2 linked regions of the Homo sapiens genome follow. The protein of the gene in region 1 interacts with the protein of each later gene in a pairwise test. Each region holds a gene or a part of one and is shown on either strand. Other genes may lie near its edges. The genes, in order: LIN28A and ZNF275.

Region 1 (10,403 bases):
TGTGCTTGCCGGTGGGGGGAGGGCGAGCAGGCCGGCCAGGGAAGCACATGCCGGGCCTAAGCCGGGAGCCCAGCTCCTCCAACGTCTGAATGGAGCTCAGAAGGCGGGAGAGAGTGAGGGCAACTGGCTACTGGACCCAAGGGGCGTAAAGCCGAGAAGTCAGCCTCATCCCCTTTTTAATGCAGACCTCACCTGGCTGGTCACTAAAAACTGGGTTTGGCAGATCCCTGAAGGATCCCTGTGGGGGCTTGAAAGCTCAGGACTGGGGTCTTTGCTGTCCAGTTCCCGTGAGGAAGGAAAACCCAAAGAGCCCAGGCCTTCCTTACATTCCTGGGCCAGGCTGGGAGGGAAGTCGGTAGGTCGCAACCCCAAGTTCTCAGTTAAAGCAGGGCAGCACAGTAGGGGGTGAAATTCAGTGTCGCAGGGCAGGGGGTGAAGGGAGGCTGGCCTCTGGTCCTATTCTCCGCTTGGCATTTATGGCCCCAGACAGCCATTGATTGCTGTCTTAACATTCCTGGCCTCAAACAAGGAGCCAGAGACTTCAGGTCTCCCTCCTCCCAGGCTTCCCCTTCCTGAATATCCTAGAGGCATTCCGGTGGTCCTGGGCCACCAGCTACCCATAAAGACCATGGAAAGGAAGTTGCTTGCTGCCTATGGCCCTTCCATCTTTGGAGGTTTGGGACTGGATCTGGAAAGAAGAAATTGCTAATCCCAGATCGTGTAGGTTGACACCCAGGCCGGGCAGGGAGGGGTTACTTAAGGGAGGTTGGCTTTAGGAGGTGTGGGGGAGGGGAAAGGAGGATGTGGGGATTAAGGGTTGGAGCCTGAAGGGATGGCATTCTTTGGGGGAGGGGTAGAGAAGGGAGATGCTGGATGGACTAGTTGGAGGCAGCAGGGACGTCTTTGAGCACAGCCTTCAGTGAGGAACAAACAAGGGAAATAGACGCAGGGAGATGGGGAGCCACCACTTACTGTTGGGGCCATGGGGTCAGTGGGCTACTTGAACATCTGCCAAGAGGACCTGCAGCAGGATACTGAGCTGCCCCTTTGCAGCACCCTTATTCCCCCAACCCCCCATTAGACAGCTAGTTTCCCACTAGTGGCTTTTCTCCCTTCTCTGTCTCATTTACATATGTGAATGATAACCCACAGGAAGTAATTGTGGGAGAAAGAAGGGAATTGGCCTTTTTAGATCTATTAAATCACTTTATTACAGGAACCAGCTTTGAATGGCCCTCCTCAGCAGGGTAGCAAGCCTCCCCCACTCTCCCATTTATCTGATCACAAAGAGATTAAAATCTTTCCTGGTCTGGGGACTGGACAGCTCCCCCAACTTTGGGAGGCTGGAATAAAAGAGTCAGACCCAACGTTTTCTCATCTCCCATCCAAAGGCTGCCAGATAGGGAGGGGCTGAGGGGAATGTATCCCCTCATCTTCTGGGTTCCTTGGTGATATACATACCCCAAGGAAGGTGTTTTCTTGTTTTGTTTGTTTGTTTGTTTGAGCAAATGGGGACTTGGGCCTCAGCAGGCTTCACCTTAGGATCTAGAGCAATTGGGAAACTATTGGATGGCATAGAGCAGGCATTGAGTCTACACCATGCTGGGTCAGATGTGCTGGCTTGGAAATACTCTGGATTTTAGGCTCTTGGAACATCCAGGAACCCATAGTTGAGTAAGTTGTCAATAGGGAGCTGAGCTGGAAGAGAATTAAGAATTTGTCTCTCTAATCCCCAGCTCTTCCCATTCTACTCACAAAGCACAATGATGGGTGGAAATTCCCTGAGCCTTTACCTGGTAGCTCTGATAATGGTAGCATGCCAGAAAGGCTTGGGTCAGGGGTCCTCCAACCCCACCTTAACCGTAAGTTAGATTAGTGATTCCAGTCTTTGCACTTGTTTTTTTGTTTGTTTGTTTGTTTGTTTGTTGCTTTTTTTTTTTTTTTTTTTGAGATGGTGTTTGGCTCTTGTTGGCCAGGCTGGAGTGCAATGGCATGATCTCCACTCACCGCAACCTCCGCCTCCCAGGTTCAAGCGATTCTCCTGCCTCAGCTTCCTGAGTAGCTGGGATTACAGGCATGTGCCACCACGCTCGGCTAATTTTTTGTATTTTTAGTAAAGACGGGGTTTCTGCACGTTGGTCAGGCTGGTCTTGAACTCCTGACCTCAGATGATCCGCCCGCCTTGGCCTCCCAAAGTGCTGGGATTACAGGCATGAGCCACCACTCTTCTGCATTTGTGAAATTAGAAATGACTCTCTGGAAATCTTATGGTAAAGGAATTTAGTAAACACAGGATAAATTGTTTACTGGGGGAGGAGGAAAGTGTTCCCGAAGCAGAGGGTAAGAAATCTTTAACAAAACTTCCCATTCTTTGGCTGCTGGGGTTGGGCACCCTGGGGTTGGGGTGGGCTGGTGAGAAGGTAATTGTCCTAAGATAGCATCTACCAGAGGGAGGGGGTCAGGGAGCCCCTTTGCAAATAAAGAGGAAGGGGGAAAGGCAATTTAAAAACATTTTCTTTTCCTTTCCAAAGTTGGGGTTATTAGGATCCCAATGCCCTGTTAACTAATGTTCTTATGCTCTCTCCCAAATGCTGTAATATCCTCTTCAAGAGTAGATGAGTGGGGGGAAAAGCCCACCCCCAGCCAAAAACTAAGCAAAACGACAACAAAACAAAAAGCAAAGAGATTTCTATAACAACTCTTTTCCTTAGGTACACATCTTTAGATCTAGAAATCTGCCTGTCTCTAGAGTTAGGGAAATAGATAGCAAGCCCTTAAATTAGAGTTTCTCGACTTCAGCACTATTGACATGTTTTGAGCAGGATAATTTGTTCTGGGGAGTCTGTCCTATGTATTATAGGATGTACAGCAGTATTCCTGGTCTCTACCCACTAGAAGCCAGTTGCATCTTAGGTATGACAACCAAAAACATCTCCATACATTGTCAAATGTCCCCTTGGAGTCAAAAATCTCATCCCTGCTTGAGAAACACAGTTATATAGGAAAGCTGGAACAAGAAAGCTAAACTGTCAACTATTTTCCTGAGATTCATCAAGAATTCAAAAATCCTCATTTTGGGCCATTTTAAGAGTTTTGGCTTAACTCATGTTTCCTGTGGCTCAATTTGCAAACTCTCAAGATTTATAGAAATTTGGAAATAAGAAAAGTTCCCTGCTTTCCCATAGCTCCTCAGGACCCAGATATGTTTCAATCTCAAATATGTTTAAATTGGCTTTCTGGCTAAAATGCTATATTAGAAGACTTGGAGTCAAAAGCCCAGATTTGACCAAGGGACCAAGTTGGGTTAGGAGAAAAGGTTTTCAATACCTAGACAACTGCTGAAATTGCCCTGTAGCCAGGTGGCCTTCTTTTTCTAAAAGCCATGAGTGAGGAGGTGGTAAGAGCAACTTTATTCAGGGTCTAGGTTAGGACTGCTGGGTTTGGTGTTAGGGTTGCGGGGGCGGGTGGGGAAATATACGGAATCTTTCCTCCTGGTTTGTAACACTGCACCTCTGATTACTCACCTCATGTCTAGTTATTGAGGTACTGGTCTTATACCCTTCTCTATGTAACCCATAAGCTCTTTGAAGGGAGGAACTTAGCTGCCTGGTTAATTTTCTAGTATGCATTTGGTGGGCTGAGGAATGAATAAGAAAAGGGGCATCTTGAGGACCTTGGTGAATCAGAAGTACACTTAGCAGTCTGGGGTCCATGTTGGCAGAGATCTTTGTTCAGAGAAAAAGACTAGAGATACTGAGGGGTGTCAATTGTAGCTGCTCGCTTTCTGGGCTGGGCACAACATAGAATATGGCCTGGGCACAACATAGCACTATGAAAGTTTGTGGAGTGAATATGGGTAGATCACCACTCGGAGCCCAGAGAGGTTCCTCTCGTTTTTGTTGACAGAGTGGAAGCCACGGATTTAGTGGTCATCCATGAGTTATTTCTGTCTTAATAAGAAAAGGCAGCTTAAAAATAAATTGACTCGATTTTTCAGAAAGTTGGTAGAGAGGTAGGAAGGTTCATGAAGACATTGTGGAATCTTCTGGGGTCCTCTTCTTTCTGAGACATGCTTCTAGACAATGTCTTTTTTTTATTTTTATTTTTATTTTTTGAGATAGAGTCTTGCTCTGTCGCCCAGGCTGGAGTGCAGTGGCACGAACTCGGCTCACTGCAACTTCTGACTTTTGGGTTCAAGCAATTCTCCTGCCTCAGCCTCCCAAGTAGCTGGGATTACAGATGTACACCACCACACCCAGCTAATTTTAGTATTTTTAGTAGAGAAGGGTTTTCGTCATGTTGTCCAGGCTGGTCTCAAACTCCTGACCTCAAGTGATCCACCTGCCTGGGACTCCCAAAGTGCTGGGATTACAGGCATGAGCCATGATGCCCGGCGACAGTGTAAAGTAAAGGCTGTGACACCATCCTGAACAAAGCTTCAAATATGGGATGTTTCTACCCTCTGGTTGTTGACACTGCTGCCTGCCTTACAAGTGGTTTTCAGTAACATTCACCAGGGCCATTTAGTTTTTTGAACATTGCTAATCACACTCTACTGGAATTCTTGTTTTTTGGAGTAACTGCCCTAGGTAAAACTATGCCTCCTGTCTTCCTGCAGGCATGAATAGCAACCACTGGCCACATAGTCAGAGTGGGAGGTCAAAGGAGTTGGGGGAGAATACACAGTTGATACAGACTTATTTAACATGATCTCACCATCGAGGTTTTTTATTTTTTTTGAGACGGAATCTCTCTCTGTTGCCCAGGCTGGAGTGCAGTGGCGCCGTCTTAGCTCACTGCAACCTCCACCTCCCAGGTTTGAGCGATTTTCCTGCCTCAGCCACCCGAGTAGCTGGGATTAGAGGCACCTGCCACCATGCCCGGCTAATGTTTTGTATTTTTAGTAGAGATGGGGTTTCACCATGTTAGCCAGGCTGGTCTCGAACTCCTGACCTCGTGGTGATCCGCCTGCCTCGGCCTCCCAAAGTGCTGGATTTACAGGCATGAGCCACCATGACTGGCCCAGCGTGGTGTTATTTAATTTAGACAGGACTTGGCTTTTCTAAGCAGTAGAATATAAGAACTGAGTTTCTGGCCTAAAAGTCTAGGAACCTTTCATTCTTATCCCTGATCAAGCCGGTGGTTGGGTGGGGGCAGGGTGGGACGGGGAGGACAAGATGACTGCCCTAAGGAGCTGTGGAGATAAATCTACCCGAACACTTGAGTTCACAGCTCAGACCAGGTAGCGGGCCACTCAGTACCTCCTGGTATAGGCGCCCTCGGGCTTACCTTTGGGCAGACAGGCTGAGCAGCGCCATCTGGTGGAGAACTCCAGGCAGGAGCTACAGGGCCTGGCTGTGGCTGAGCAGAGGGGATCAGAGGGATTGGCTGCCTGCAGCCTTCTGTTCCAGACACCCCTTTCACCAACCTCCTTGACACACACCCTCCTTGACACACACACCATCGAATAACTGCTTCTGGGAGAACCGGTTGGTTCTCCCTTACCAAATCTTACCTCCAGGAATGAAGCTAAGTTAGGGATGTGACACCACAGGACTGAATCATTAAAATTACTTTCATCAGCTGCTTTTTTAAACGTAGCTACTAGAAAGTTTTCAATTATATATGTGACTTGCATCATAATGAATTGCACTGGGGAGAGTTAGGCCAGCTGCACTCAGCTCAGCTCTTGCCTCTTATTGCGACTTTAACCAAGGTGCTTATTAACCCCTCTGCCTCCATGTCCTCAAGCTGTAAAATGAGGGTCTTCATATCACCCCACTGCACCAGTTTGATATGAGGGTTAAATGAGTTACAACACGTAAAGTGGTTAGAATGCCACTTAGCCTACAGTAAGAATCAATTAGTAACAGTTATTTTGCATAGTACTTAGACATTCAACAAATGCTTGTGCAAGCTAAGAACCTAGAATTGAGGTAGAGACCTGCACTACAGAATCTTCCGGCTGGAATGGCCCTGGAAGAAGATCTGGAATAGCCTCTTGCGGAAGAGCCAAGAACCCCAGCTTTAATCTGCACAACTGTAGCAAGTACCCTGAAATTCTGTTGCCACTTCTGGAGAAAGGACACTTAGGTTCCTTTGTGTTGTTTTTTTTTTTTCTCTTCATACTTTTTTCTTTTATAATGTTTTCTTTTGTTTTTAACTCCACATTTCCTAAGTGACCCCTAAGGCTCATTCTATCTCTAAGCTTGCAAAGGCATAAATTGAAGCTGGGATGAGGTACTTGGTGTGGGTTGGATAGGGTAAGGCAGGCAATTACTGAGGTATTAAGAAGGGATCAGAAGGCCTAAGTACTTTAACTGGAGAGATTCCTTCCCTGTTATCAAAAAAAGAAAAAGAAATGCTTGGGGTGGGCGCGGTGGCTCACGCCTGTAATCCCAGCACTTTGGGAGGCCGAGGCGGGTAGATCATGAGGTCAGGAGATCGAGACCATCCTGGCTAACGCGGTGAAACCCCGTCTCTACTAAAAATACAAAAAATTAGCCAGGAATGGTGGCAGGAGCCTGTAGTCCCAGCTACTCGGCAGGCTGAGGCAGGAGAATGGCGTGAACCCGGGAGGCGGAGCTTGCAGTGAGCCGAGATTGTGCCACTGCACTCCGGCCTGGGCAACAGAGCCAGACTTTTTAAAAAAAAAAAAAAGAAAAAGAAATGCTGTCTGTTGTCTGATGCCACATTCCCCAACACAGTAGGCCCATGTAGGCTCCCCACAGTCCTAACTTGAAGAAATTGGGAAAGGATGATATGGGTCATGCCTTCTCTCCCCCTCCCCTTTAAAATAATTTATCTGAATCAATAATTCAGGATTGGACTGAAGAGACCCAAGGGGAGGGGGTCCTGTTTGGTTCTATCCATGAAGTGGGCAGTGCGCAAGCCAGAGAAGGGAGATGGCTGCTGATGGTGACTTTGGCAAGACTGCCTGGGGAAGGAAGAATTTTCTATATCTAGTTCTCTCCCGTGACCATAACCCCAACATAGAGAGGAAGGAAGAAACAGTTGAATGTGGGGAGGAGGGAGAGGGAGATGCAAGAGGGATCTGCTCCTTGGAACTCCAGGAATCTGACCACCAGAACCAGCCAGTGTCAACTCTTTGTTTCCTGGGGCTGGGCTCTACTGGGGGAGCTCAGGCCATGCCCCTCCCCCTAAGGTCTTTTCTTTTTGGAGGGGATGGGGAAGGGGGCGGGGCCCTGCTTTGTGTGTGGTTGGGGGTGGAATGGGGGTGGTACAAGAATTTCAGGCGCTTTTCAGATGCAGGCCCTGGGAGGCTGGCTCTGTGGGGCTGCACGCTGATTACCTATCTGATAAGAGAGGAATTCAAACTATGTGTTTTAGAAAGGGGCGGGGGAGGAGGGCAGGGAGCCACCCCTGGAGACCACCAGTTTAAATCTCTTGATTACACTGAGGTACCTGCAGGGGTGGGGGTTTACTCTGTAAAAGTCTTAGACCTCAGATCCTCCAGTGATGCAGTGAGTGACCTGAGAGGACTAGTCAATTTCTTGTTGCATGTCCCCATTTATATGATCCTCTTAAAATAAACCTATGAGGTGTCCATAGAGGAAGGTGTTACTCTCCAGTCAACTGGGGCTTAGAGAGGGGATATTCTTCTAAGTTTCTATAGCTAGTTAGGATAAAACCAGATGCTTGGCACTTAGTTCTCTCTGTTAACCCACGCCACCCAGTGTGAAGAGGTTGATAATTGCCACTCCCTGAGGATTTATGTGTAGCAGGCGAAGTGCTAACTACTTTTCATGTGTAAAACCTCACAGCACTACCATAAAATTAGTATTTACTCCATTTTATAGATGATTAAAGAAAGGAGGGAACAGGCCATCAGACTCAATCAACCCTTGTTCTTAACTATTTACCTGCTGAATCACAGCTAGAACTAGGAGTGTCCCAGCCTAAGACAAGCTGGGCAAGCAAATGAAGCTGGAATTGCTTGGGTCCAGAAGGCTCTTGGTCTGGCTCCTCTAGGACCTCCCAACTCACCCACTAATTGCATCTCTTGTCCCACCCCGCTCAATAAAAAATAAGTCAAATCTAATATAATCTTTATTTTTTGAGATGGGTTCTTGCTCTCTCACCCAGGCAGGAGTGCAGTGGCGCGATCTCAGCTCACTGCAAGCTCTGCCTCCCAGATTCAAGCGATCCTTCTACCTCAGCCTCCCAAGTAGCTGGTACCACAGGCACATGCCACCATGCTGAGCTAATTTTTGTATTATTTTGTAGAGAACAGGGTTTCGCCCTGTTGCCCAGGCTGGTCTCCAACTCCTGAGCCTCAAGCTCAGAATCCACCTGCCTCAGTCACCCAAATTGCTGGGATTACAGTTGTGAGCCACCATGCCCGACCTTACAAATCTAACTTTAAACTCAGGGTGGTTACTGTGAAACAGCGAGAGAGGTATTGCACCCGGCCTGCAATATCATCTTAAAACAAAAATTTGGCCGGGCATGGTGTGTAATCCCAGCACTTTAGGAGGCATGAGGTCAGGAGTTTGAGACCAGCCTGGCCAATAAGGTGAAACCCTGTCTCTACTAGAAATACAAAAATTAGCTGGGTGTGGTGGCGTGCGCCTGTAGTCCTAGCTTAAACCCAGAAGAATCGCTTAAACCCAGGAGGCGGAGGTTGCAGTGAGCTGAGATCGTGTCACTGCACTTCAGCATGGGCGACAGAGCAAGACTTTCTCAAAAAAAAAAAAAAAAAATTAAGTGATAAGGAATCTGTGGTTCCTTCATCTTGATGAAGAGCATGTTTCATTTAAGTTCCAGTTTGGAATATTACCCCCCAGCCACCAGCATAAAATACGAATGCTACTTACTCATGTTCCCTTGAGCCAGGACTAGGTAAGTGCACAGTGATCCCTTTTGCTTCTCCATTTTCTATGACGACTACTCCTTGTTGACATATTTGACACTGTTGTTTTACTATAATAGATGAAGCTGTAATGAAGTCTATTCTGGGTAGGGTCTGAGATGCTGTCACCTCCGCTAATGTCAAGTTGGTGGTGCAGTAAGTGGCATGATAGAATGAGCTCTGAGCTTTAAATCAGGAACTCTGGGTTCATCTGACCCTGGCTTTGCTACAGAACTAGCTGTATCAACAACTACTTTTTTTTTTTTTCTTGATGGCTGCTGGCTGTTTGCTAACTGCTTTATAAATATCAGTGTCCTTAAATTTTGGTACAAACGTGCAGTGTTCTAATAGGATTATTCCATACATATTGTTCTAAATCTTGCTTTTTGTTTTTTCTTTTAACAATATTATTTGGTGATCTTTCTCAGCTGAATGATTAAAAATCTGCCTCCTGTTTCATTAATTCATTCAAAAATGTGCTAGGCATTATTTCAGGTACCAAAATGTGGCTGTGAACAAACCAAAGACTTTACGTTGTTCTTAATGGCTGCGTGGTATTCATTATTATAGATGTACCATATTTATTCAACCATTCCCCTTCAAATACACCAGTAGGTTATTTCCAATTTTTTTAAAGCAACAATGAGATACTGAGTATATGTGTCGTGCTAAGACTTCCTACTGATAATCTACTTATATTATGTTGTGTAATTCTTTTTTCTTAGTGATTTATGGTATATTTTTGTAGTTTTACCAGTCTGATTATCTGTCTTAACTTTTCAGTATTTTTCTTAACAATGAGGTGTTTAAATCCTCTGAAATGTATTTTGCATATGTATCATACAAAGTCTGTAGGAATATGACTTCCTTTCCCAATGGATTATTAATTTTTATAGCAGCATTTATTGAATTATTTTTCTTACCTATTGATTTCTCCATATATTCTCAGATCTCTGTGATTTTCCATTTTAATCCTCTGATCCATCTGCTTGGGTTATACTGTCTTTCGGTAACATTATTTTGATATAATTTCAAACTTTAAAAAGGCTGCAAGAACAATACCCAACACTCCCACATAACCTCTACCCAGATTCATTGACTCTTAACATTTTGCCCCATTTGCTTTATCATTCTCTATCTTGCTACAGATAGTTTTTTTTTTGAAACCATAAGTTGGAGACAGTAAGCACTTTTATCTCTAAATATTTCAGTGCGTATTTCCCAAGAATGGGAATATTTATCTTTTTTTTTTTTTTCTGAGACAGGGTCTCACTCTGTCACCCAGCCTGGAGCACAGTTGTGTGATCTCTGCTCACTGCAACCTCTGCCTCCTGGGCTCAAGGGATCCTCCCACCTCAGCCTCCCCAGTAGTTGGGACTACAGGTGTGTACCACTGTGCCTGGCTCATTTTTGTATTATTTTGTAGAGATGGGTTTTTGCCATATTGCCCAAGCTGGTCTCGAATTCCTGGGCTCAAGCAATCCGCCCATCTTGGCCTCCCAAAGTGCTGGGGATTATAGGCATCAGCCAC
Region 2 (10,403 bases), on another chromosome or scaffold:
TGATTCTGTGCTTCCTGCTGTCCAGTGTCTGAAAACTTGTTTCACATATATTTTCTCCATTTTTTTCTACTTATTTATGGCACGATGTGAAATCTGTTCCTTGTTACTCCATCGCAGCCAAACGTGGAAGTTTCTGTCCATTCTTTTTCACATAACATCTTTAATTTTATATAAGAGTCTTTCTGGAGTAGCTGGATTTTGTGGGCCTTGAGCCAGTGTAAGAGCCTTCCTTTTCACTGAATTATGAGTTGAATTGAATTGAATTGTCATCACAACAGGAACTGTGTAGCTGTTTCTTAGAATTCACTGAAGTGGGAGGCCTGTGATGCACGGATGCCGGTGGTTGAATCTTTCACATATTTTGCAATTTGGAAGAAGAAGATAATTTGTACAAATCATTCAGCTCTTTTATTTAACAATTTAGTGTTTGAAGATCTTTTCTTTGAGGCTTATTTTTCCAGCTGTTTTGTTCCACTTTTCATTTGGGTTGAACACGTTAGAGAACTGCTGTCATGTGTACCTGTCTTGCTGTCACCGGGCTCCTTGTGTCAGTGGGCTGTGGCTTTTAAGGGCCTCACTGCTGGTCTAGAAGCCCCCATTCCTGCTCTCTTCCCTCCAGCATCTTCATCCGGTTTTTTGTTGCCTCTACAAAGTTGGAAAGGGTCTCTCATTTCCTGGTTATTTCTTCTGATGATCTTGGTGTGCCTCCTTCCTGTGCAGCATCAGCATGGACTTCTAGGCTTGCCAGTCTCCCTGCCCTTGGCTTTCTGTCTAGGTCTGTCTTCTCCTAGCTGTGCCTGGGCTGGCATCTGCTGGTCTTGTCTTGGCTCCCTCTGGCCTGCCTCTGTTCATTCTTTGCCAGGCTACTTTCCCCATTGTTCAAGATGTGTTTTCTCAGGCATCTCCGTGCCCTGGCTTGTCATTCAGCCAGCATGTGAGAGAAGACTCAACAAGATCAGAAACCAAGGAAGAAGAAATCACCAGTCTCTTCCCAGGGGATCCAGGGACAGGGCTGTCGTCACTCATGGCCTTTTTCACTTTCTTTAGTTCCACCTACTCCCCAAGGTCTTACCCTCCCCAGGATGGAGCCCCAGGAAACCAGGTCCTGGCAGTCCCTCTTGAGATGCCAGAGGCCTAGGTGAGCTGTGCTTCCCTCTGCCTTGCTTGGGATTCTCTCACCGCTCCCTGAATCTGGCCTCAGCCTCTGTCTCTTGCCCCAGCATGACACACGGCAGAGTATGAACCCCAGCTGCTGCCTTCCTACCCTCCCTCTGCTTCTCTTCTGGAGGCTGCCAAGGATTGGATGTCCACTGGGCTTGGAGTTCCAATCATCCAGGTGGGGAAGCTGAGTTTCCATCCAGGAAAGTGATTGAATGGAGGTCCCTTGGAAAGACGAGAGGCCAGGTCCATGGCCCAGGGATCCTAGTGCTTGATCAGGTTCTCTTTTCAGGACTTCTTGGAGCTGTGGTTAGGCCTCCATGTTAGCAACAGACACCCACTCCAGACCCTCACCTCTTGACCCTGGCATTACTGGCGCTGCCCCTGCCTCATTCTAAAATAGATGGAAAGACTGATGAGCCCTGGGAATTCTTTCAGGATTTGGTGACATTTGATGATGTGGCATGGTACCTCACCACAAGGGAGTGGTTTAAGCTGGACCCTGAACAGAGGGCACTGGAATATTATGGGAACGTGACCTCTGTGGGTAAGGATGTCCCAGCCCTTCCTCAAATTCACCACCTTCTTGGAGTGGGGCAGGGGACACATGGCTACCCCCACAGAAGCTCACCTTCTCCCTGGGTTGTGGGGAAACACAATGGGTCTGCCACACCTGATATGTCAGAGTAGTATGAGCTCCCCCAACTCCTCTTGGCATGGAAAGAACCCCTCTCAGTCTTTTACTGGGAAAGAAATTAGAACACTGCCACTGTAATGTAGAATGCCCTTTTCATTTTAATGCACAAATTATGCAAATTGCATGGCCATTTGGTTTGAGTTTATTTGTGAGAAAGGTTGACGTGATCAAGATCTTGTTCACCCATTAGGGGTCTGCATGTGTGCAGTGGGGAGGAGGTTTTAGGAGGAGAGACGTTGGGAGTCAGATTTGGGAGCTGTCGAAGTCCACGTGTCTGGGAAGAGCATGAAGTTAAATGTGTGAGCTCTGAGTGGGTGGACAGAGAGAAGACAGGGTGAAGATCACCTCCTCAGGGTGGCCACTTGATACTCCACAGAGCCTCCCCAAGGTGGGCCCAGAGGCTGCCTTCCTCAAGCTCCTGGAAGGAGCCTGACCTTGGGAAACACCTTTGAACTGAATGAATGACTTGCCTAAAGCCTGGTCTTTGAAGATTGAAGGGGGTTCCCCTTCAAAGGCCTTGCCTATGTTCCTCCACTATTCTCATGTCATCTCTGGCTGTTGCCATAACCAATCTCCTTTCCCATGAGCAGGCGTTCCTGTTTTAAATCCTGCCTTGGTCCCTCACCTGGCACAAGGACAAGTGCTACTGGTGTCAGACCCATCGCCCAACACTGATCCTGCTAAGTACTCTGGTGAGTGAAAAAGAAATGTGAGGAAATTGGGGGAGACCCAACCAAGCTGCTATGGGGCATGGGTTAGGGTTGGAGAGCCCAGCTGAGCTGTTAGGCTTCAGGTTAGGGTTGGGGGTCCCAGCTGAGCTCTTGGAGTTGAGGTTAGGGTTTGGGGGCCCTGCTGAGCTCTTGGGCTTGAGGTTAGGGTTGAGAGAAACAGCTGATCTCTCAGGGGTTTGGGTTAGGGTTGGGGGCCCAGCTGAGCTCTTGGGGTTGAGGTTAGGGTTGAGAGGATCAGCTGGCCTCTTGGAGGTTTTGAGTTAGAGTTGGGGGGTTCCAGCTGAGCTCTTGGGTTCGGGTTAGGGTTGAGGGACCCAGCTGAGCTCTTGGGGTTGAGGTTAGGGTTAGGGGGTCCAGCTGAACTTCTGAGGTTGAGGTTACGAGTAGAGGGGCCCATTTGGGCTCCTGGGGTTGAGGTTAGGATTGAGAGGATCAGCTGGGCTCTCTGGGCATTCAGGTTAAAGTTAGGACCCCAGCTGAGCTCTTGGGGTTGAGGTTAAGTTTGGGAGCCCTGCTGAGTTCTTGGGGTTGAAGTTAGGGTTGGGGGGCCCAGCTGAGCTCTTGGAGTTGAAGTTAAGGTTGGGAGGGCTCAGCTGAGCTTTTGGGGTTCTAGTTAGTGTTTGGGGCCCCAGCTGAGCTCTTGACGGTGAGGTTAGGGTTGAGAGGATCAGCAGGGCCCTTTGGAGATTCGGGTTATGTTTGGAGATCCCAGCTGAGCTCTTGGAGTTACAGTTAGGGTTGGGGGTCCCAGCTGAGCTTTTGGAGTTCTAGTTAGGGTTTGGGGCCCCAGCTGAGCTCTTGATGGTGAGGTTAGGTTGAGGATCAGCAGGGCCCTTTGGAGATTCAAGTTATGTTTGGGGATCCCAGCTGAGCTCTTGGGGTTGAGGTTAGGGTTGGGGGACCCAGCTGAGCCTTTGGGGACGTGTGTGGCTGCTCTCTGGTCACAGAAGGGGTGACCTCCTCAGCACCACTGTGGTAGAGAGTGTCCAGAATGAGGTCCCTCTGCCCCTGGCTTCTGCAGTCCTTGCTTCTGGTGGCTTCCGGGCCCAGGCCCCGTGCTCAGTGGCTGTCTCAGAAAGAAAAAGATTCTTGACAAAGGAGAGGCCCTTCCCTCCTTCATCCTCTGCAGACTACACTGCCTTGTGTTTATCGTTTCAGAAAGCACCTCCGCGACCCGACACCAGATGAAGGGGGAAGATGCCCAGCCACAGGAGATGGCGTCCACAAGCTTCCCAAGGGCCAGTGGTCCCAGTCCTGAATTCAGACAGCACGGGGACTCTGACGGGAAGAGAGGGAGCCCACAGAATCTGCCCATAGAACATCATTTTGCTTGTAAAGAGTGTGGGGACACCTTTCGGCTTAAAGTCCTGCTTGTCCAGCACCAGAGAGTCCACAGTGAGGAGAAGGGCTGGGAATGTGGCGACTGCGGGAAGGTCTTTAGGGGGGTGGCGGAGTTTAATGAGCACAGGAAAAGCCACGTAGCTGCGGAGCCCCAGCCCGGCCCCAGTAGGGCCCTGGAGAATGCCGCGGAGAAGAGGGAGCAGATGGAGAGGGAGGCAAAGCCCTTCGAGTGCGAGGAGTGCGGAAAACGGTTTAAGAAGAATGCAGGCCTGAGTCAGCATCTGAGGGTCCACAGCAGAGAGAAGCCCTTTGATTGCGAGGAATGCGGGCGGTCGTTCAAAGTCAACACCCACCTCTTCCGACATCAGAAACTTCACACTTCGGAAAAGCCTTTCGCCTGCAAGGCGTGCAGCAGGGATTTCCTGGATCGCCAGGAGCTTCTCAAGCACCAGCGCATGCACACTGGCCACCTGCCCTTCGACTGCGACGACTGCGGCAAGTCCTTCCGAGGGGTCAACGGGCTGGCCGAGCACCAGCGCATCCACAGTGGGGCCAAGCCATACGGGTGTCCCCACTGCGGCAAGCTCTTCCGAAGGAGCTCGGAGCTCACCAAGCACCGGCGGATCCACACGGGCGAGAAGCCCTACGCCTGCGGCCAGTGCGGCAAGGCCTTCCGCCAGAGCTCCAGCCTCCTGGAGCACGCACGCATCCACAGTGGCGAGCGGCCCTACGCATGCGGCGAGTGTGGCAAGGCCTTCCGTGGGCCCTCTGACCTCATCAAGCACCGGCGCATCCACAGCGGACTGAAACCCTATGAGTGCGACAAATGCGGCAAGGCCTTCCGCCGGAGCTCCGGCCTCAGTCGCCACCGGCGGATCCACAGTGGGGCGCGGCGCTGCGAATGCAGCCAGTGTGGCCGCGTGTTCAAGAGGCGCTCGGCACTGCAGAAGCATCAGCCAACCCACCACGAGTAGAAACGCCCTGTGGTCCCGCGGGACAGGGACGGAGTCCCCAGAGGGGATGGCAGAGTCAAAGGAGATGAACAGTTTTGTAGCGCTTATATATTTTGTCTTCCAAAAGGTTGAGACCGATTTATACTGCCACCAGCAATTTATAAGTGTTACGTTATGCCCATCAAGAGTAGCTTGTACCATTTAACTTAGTTTGGCTAGTTTAACTGGTAGGAAGTACCATCAAGGTATTTCAGTCCACATGCCTTGAATCCAAGAATGAGAGAGGACAAATCTGGATGTGGGGTAGGGAGGGGCTTAGAGGTCATCAACTCCAAGCTCCCCCCGCCCCAGAGAAACACACAGAGCTGTTCCACGATGGCGTCCTCATAATGTGATCCCAGCTTTCCTGAAGAGAACGTTGCCCTCATGATTTTTGGCCTACTTGAATTTATAAATTTTTAGGGATGTAAATAGAACACTCAAATGTCTTAAAATATTTAATTTATTAATTTAGTTATACATACATACTGTAAATCACATATTATATAAAATAATATATTAATTTAGAAAATACCCCATTTTTGCCACCCTCCCTTTCACGAAATCATTTTACTCTGACTCCTCACCGTCTTCACCAACATGGGAACCCTGTTTGAGTCATCAGACAGTTTCAAGACACACCCAGTCACTTCCATCCGAGCTCTGCACGGTCGCTCAGTGACGATCCCTTCATGAGGCTCTCATTAGAAATTTTCTCCCAAGCCATAAGACCATATTTGCAGAACATTAGGACGATTTCTCTTGTCGTTTTTTAATCTGTCCTGTGACTGTACAATATAACCACTTAAGGTCATACTTTTTCAAACAACCTTTAAACGTCTTTTCTTTTAAAGCACCCAAAATGTCATTGTGAGGCCAAACGCCTAGTAACAGTTACTGAATCTGGGTTAAATGTCGGTATCTTTTTTTCTTAAACCATTTCAATTTGGTGTCCCCTATACATATCCAAAACTAGCATCGATTGGGGTTGTTTTGAACTAATGGGTCTTGTCCTCAAGCAGCACTATTTTGTTCAAAATAAAATAGTTGAGAGCATGCCCCTAAGAAGAGATACATCTCAAGGACTCAAGTGCAGGGTGACGCCTCCTTTTGGAAATGAGCCTCTCCTGGTATCAGGCCTAGATGGTACTTCTCCAGCCTTCCGTTTCTTGTTCTATAAAACAGGGGTGATCACAGCACCTACCTCCGAAGGTTATCACGAGGACTGCCATCGTGGCTGCAGAGTGCCAGGACCACCGGCCTGGTATGGAGGTACACACTCAGTGAAGGCCATCTGCTGTCATTGTCATTGTCATAGTTATTGCCGTCATTCTGTGGCTTGTCAATTCCAGAACTGGGGATAGACCCCAGGCCTCCTGACCACCAGTCTCATCTTTCTCTTATGCGATGACTTAAATGGTGTTTCTGTTTTTTGCATGCAAATGGTCCGTTCATCTCCTTTGACTAGTTATCAACTTACCTTCGGATATATTAACTTTATGTAGCAGTTCTTTCTATATTGATGGTGATGTTCTCTTTTCCAATTTTATTGCTTTGCTTTTTGTAGCAGTTTTATTACGTTTTTGTTGTGAAAGCTTTTAATTTTTACATATCCAAGCATTCATTTTTTGTCCACTCAGTCATAACTTTCATTGCTTCTGTAGCTAGATATGATGACATTTTCTCTAGAATTTTAATTACAAACAAAAAGCTGCAACCCCAGCCCATCAGAAGGTGAGTACACCAGGTGGGCAGGCTGGATGGAAATGGGCCAGAGAAGCAGGCTCTTTCCTCATCCGAGATGCGGACTCCCTGTCTATCTGTGGGCACCACTTGACTATCCAACCTGACCACTGCGGCACACTGGAGATGCTCCCATCATAGATTAGCCAGAACTCTGTGACTGCTCATCATTATAGACCCCGCCAGCAGCAGTGGGGCTTGGCCTCACCTAGATCAATGGAGTGGTCCAAACTTGGTCTGGGAGCAAGCAGCCCAGCCATCCTTTGAGCTCCTGGGAGCCTTGGCAATGCTCCGAGTGGATTCAGTGACTGAGCAGCAGATTCACCCAAGAAACATCTCCTTGGACACAAGAAGACTTGCCTAGACCACATCCTCCTTTCAGCCGGTGACTCTAGAACTAGAAAGAGATTGGTTCATAGGCTTCTGCTGTGGGCAGCTAGGGGAAAATTCACCCATGTGTTCTGGCATCACTTCCTATAGCCACACCTAAGTGAGGGCAACAGAGCAGAGGCTCGGAGAGGAACCCTGCCCCTCCGATGGCTTGTGCGTTATGCTGATAGAAGCTGGCAGCACTGCCCTGGGCTATGATTTGCAACAGCCATGCCCAGGAGGAGCACTAAAGCAAAGGTTTGGAGGGCAGTGGAACCCTTCTGAAAGCCTGTGTGGCATAGAAGTAGAAGCTGGTCCTCCTGGGTCTGAGCTACCATTTCCAGTGGGCTCCCCCAAGAGGAACAGCAGCAAGGGCTAGCGAGGAACCTGCCCCTCCAGTGGCCCACAGAAGCCACAGATAGAAGCCAGCCCCACCAGGGCTGTGCTGTGACTTCCCAGCAGCTGTGGCTGGGGACAGGGACACTAGGAGGGCCTGGCAAGGAAGTGTGCCCTTCTCGTGGGCCCACCAAGGCTGAGGCAGAGCTTCCTAGCAGACACAACTTGGAAGGGCTTCTCAGGCACCCATCCTGACCCCCAGGCTGGAGAGGAGCCAAAAGCACTTGTTACATAGTGATTCCTTTTGCCCTGTGGGCCTCAGTTCTTGCAGTAGTTGTGAATCTGTGTCTGAAATCACTACTTTCTTCTCGGATCCTTTTTCTCTTTTCGAGTTGTTAGGATGTGTTTTGTACAGCTGTCATTTGATAAAGAAGGTTGACCTCTACCAGGGGCAAGTCTGGCACCTTTACCTAGAAGTACTCTGCCATGTCTTGCCCGTTCATTTATCGTTTGTTGGGTTTCATGAGGGATCCCATTGAAGTAGATCCCTTTTATGAAGGGATCCCATTGAATGCAGCATTAACTCAGAACGTAGCATAAAGTCGTCACTGCTCCCAGCTGGGACGTGGTGTCTTGGCATCCCTTCCTGCCGTCCTTGACTCTTTCCCATCTTCAGTTCTATAATTTTCTCCCAAACAAATGCTCTTTTAGAGTTAACACTAAAGATCTGGTCTTTGCCGTCAAGGTTGACAGAACAGCTGTTCATGGTGTTTGCGGTGAAACCCGTGTTCTCTTTCAATGCAGTCTGTGGCTTTAACGTGTGTCCTGTAATTTCGCCAAGATCATTTCTTGCCTCTGGTAACTTGGGGGTGGATTTCCTTGGGCTCTCTAGGTGTACTGCTATGTCAGATGCAAAATGTCACCCAGCTTCCTGTCACATATCCTTGTCTGTGCATTCATGCATCTACCTCATTCCGGTTTTCTTTCTAATCTCATGTATTCCTGTTGTGAGGAAATGTGTTCTTTTCCCGATCCTTTTGTAGTTCATACACATGACAATTGGGTTTCCACGCACGTGCATGAGATGTTCCTCCTTCAAACCTTGTTACTATGTCAGCACATTAACTGCCTGGCATGGAAAAAGAAAAAAAAAAAAGAAATATGTTCTTTTCCTACCATTTGAAAAAAATCCTCCATTGCTTTTATTAGAGTTTTGAATACTTGTGAAAATTTTCAAAAGAAAGTAATTGATTACCATTTTTGCTGCTTATTACGATGAGCTGTGTCCATTAGCTGTGTCACCCCACTCTTGCATTTCCAGAATAGTCCCTACCCAATTGCAGCGGGCATGTTTTTGAGTGGTGTTGCATTCCATGTGCTTGATTTTGTCCTAGAACTGGCACAGCGCCTGCCCTACCTGCAGCCCTGGGTTGTGGCCCTGTTGCGTACCATGTGATTTGCCACCCCGCTTCTAGGCCATATTAATTCAGCCAGAACTGAACACCTGACCCAAGGGCAGCAAGCAATCATCAGAGCATAGAGCTGACAGAACATGATGGACCACGGACACCACCAGGCCTTCCAGATCTGAAATGCAAACAAGGAAACAGAAGCTTCTAGGCATCAGAAGGTGTGGGGAGCAGCACAGTACTCAGAGGAGTGAGGAGCGTGGCGCCTGCTGGGAGGAAGGCCTGGCCATGGTATGTTCTTGGATTTCTGGCAGCAGCCCTCATTGGTCCACGTGCGTCCCCACTACAGACTCCTTGACTTGAGCCAGCTTGAGTGGGTCTCTACTCTTTTCTATTGTGTTTTGCCACTTGGCTGCTTCCTGGCCAAGTCGCACCTGACTGCATGAACACCTGTTCAAACGTGTGTTCTCTGTTCTCTAAGATGGGTGAAAGTCGATGCCTTCTAGTCTCAGTGAATTTAACCTGTGATTTTATGTCTACGTATATTGTTCCTTTACTGAACCCACCACATGCGGGCCATAAAATGAGTGAAATCACAGTGCACCCTGTTCTCTTATTTTTGAAGTGTTTCACGATTTCCAGCATGTCCATCAGATGGGGGGATTGCTAACTTCTCTCTTACTCATGTACTTACATTCTGTAGTTCTCATTGCATCACTTTGGATGTTTACTTTGAAAAGCAGAAACTGTCTCTTTAAACTTGGCCCTCAATGTCATTTGCGTATCTCTGAGAACAATAGCTATGTCCCACCCCAGTTTGTATTTCCGTTGGTTGTTGGCACTTTTTTCTCATTCCCCCATCTCATTACCTTGTCTGTTTTCTGGCACTCACTATAATCAGCCTTGCACTAGAGCTGTTTGTGGACTTGGCTTCACCCCCTCCTCCTCAGCCCTCCCCCACCCATTAAATTGTGAGCTCTTAGAAGACAGGGGTGGCCTTTCATGTCTGATCCCCTACCAAATCTAGCACAGTGCCTTGCATCAAGTAGATTTCAATAAATATATGTTAAATGGCATTGGTCTTCCTTGACGTCTTTTGTCAAACCTTCATTTACCACTTTCCTTGCTCCTTTCTCCATGCCATGGGGTTCTATACTTGTCCTTGCACTTGGAAACTGCCCCCTCCTGGGGTCCAGGTGCTGTTGTGGCCCCTGCTGGGAATGTTATTCCAGTGCTTGCTGGGCACTTGGAGGGAAGAGGAAGCACCCTGATGGGGAGGCTGGTTTGCCTGGAACTCTGAGCTCTCCCTTGGCAGAAAGGGGTCTTTCACTCAGCCTCCCCTCACCGCAGCTAGGGCTCCCCAAATCGGAATTCCAGGTGGGAGCAGAAGACAAGGCCAGATCCTCAGCTCCTCCCTCAGGGACTGGGAATGGGATAACATGGCTTTGGGACTTGAGAATCATCCCTAGGCTGCATAGGGGTGGGAGCAGGAGTTCGGTCCTCTTGGTGGCCTGTGGCTGGCCCTCTGCCTGGTGACCACTGCCTCAGAGAAGTCAGGGGCAGGAGCAGGCCCCAGTTTCCTGGCCCTTCTAAATGCCAACGGCTCAGCCGTGGAGCCAGCAGCCCA

Evidence for each region.
Region 2: the proteins of LIN28A (region 1) and ZNF275 interact in binary tests that used the Homo sapiens proteins (3 or more experiments, as listed by UniProt).

The regions. Positions count from the first base shown.
Region 1 is NC_000001.11:26,411,897-26,422,299, forward strand, and holds part of LIN28A (protein lin-28 homolog A), read left to right. Parts: intron 1-10,403. UniProt on the Homo sapiens protein: RNA-binding protein that inhibits processing of pre-let-7 miRNAs and regulates translation of mRNAs that control developmental timing, pluripotency and metabolism.
Region 2 is NC_000023.11:153,343,075-153,353,477, forward strand, and holds the end of ZNF275 (zinc finger protein 275), read left to right. Parts: intron 1-2,445; coding exon 2,446-2,547; intron 2,548-3,744; coding exon 3,745-4,901; 3' UTR 4,902-9,852; downstream 9,853-10,403. UniProt on the Homo sapiens protein: May be involved in transcriptional regulation.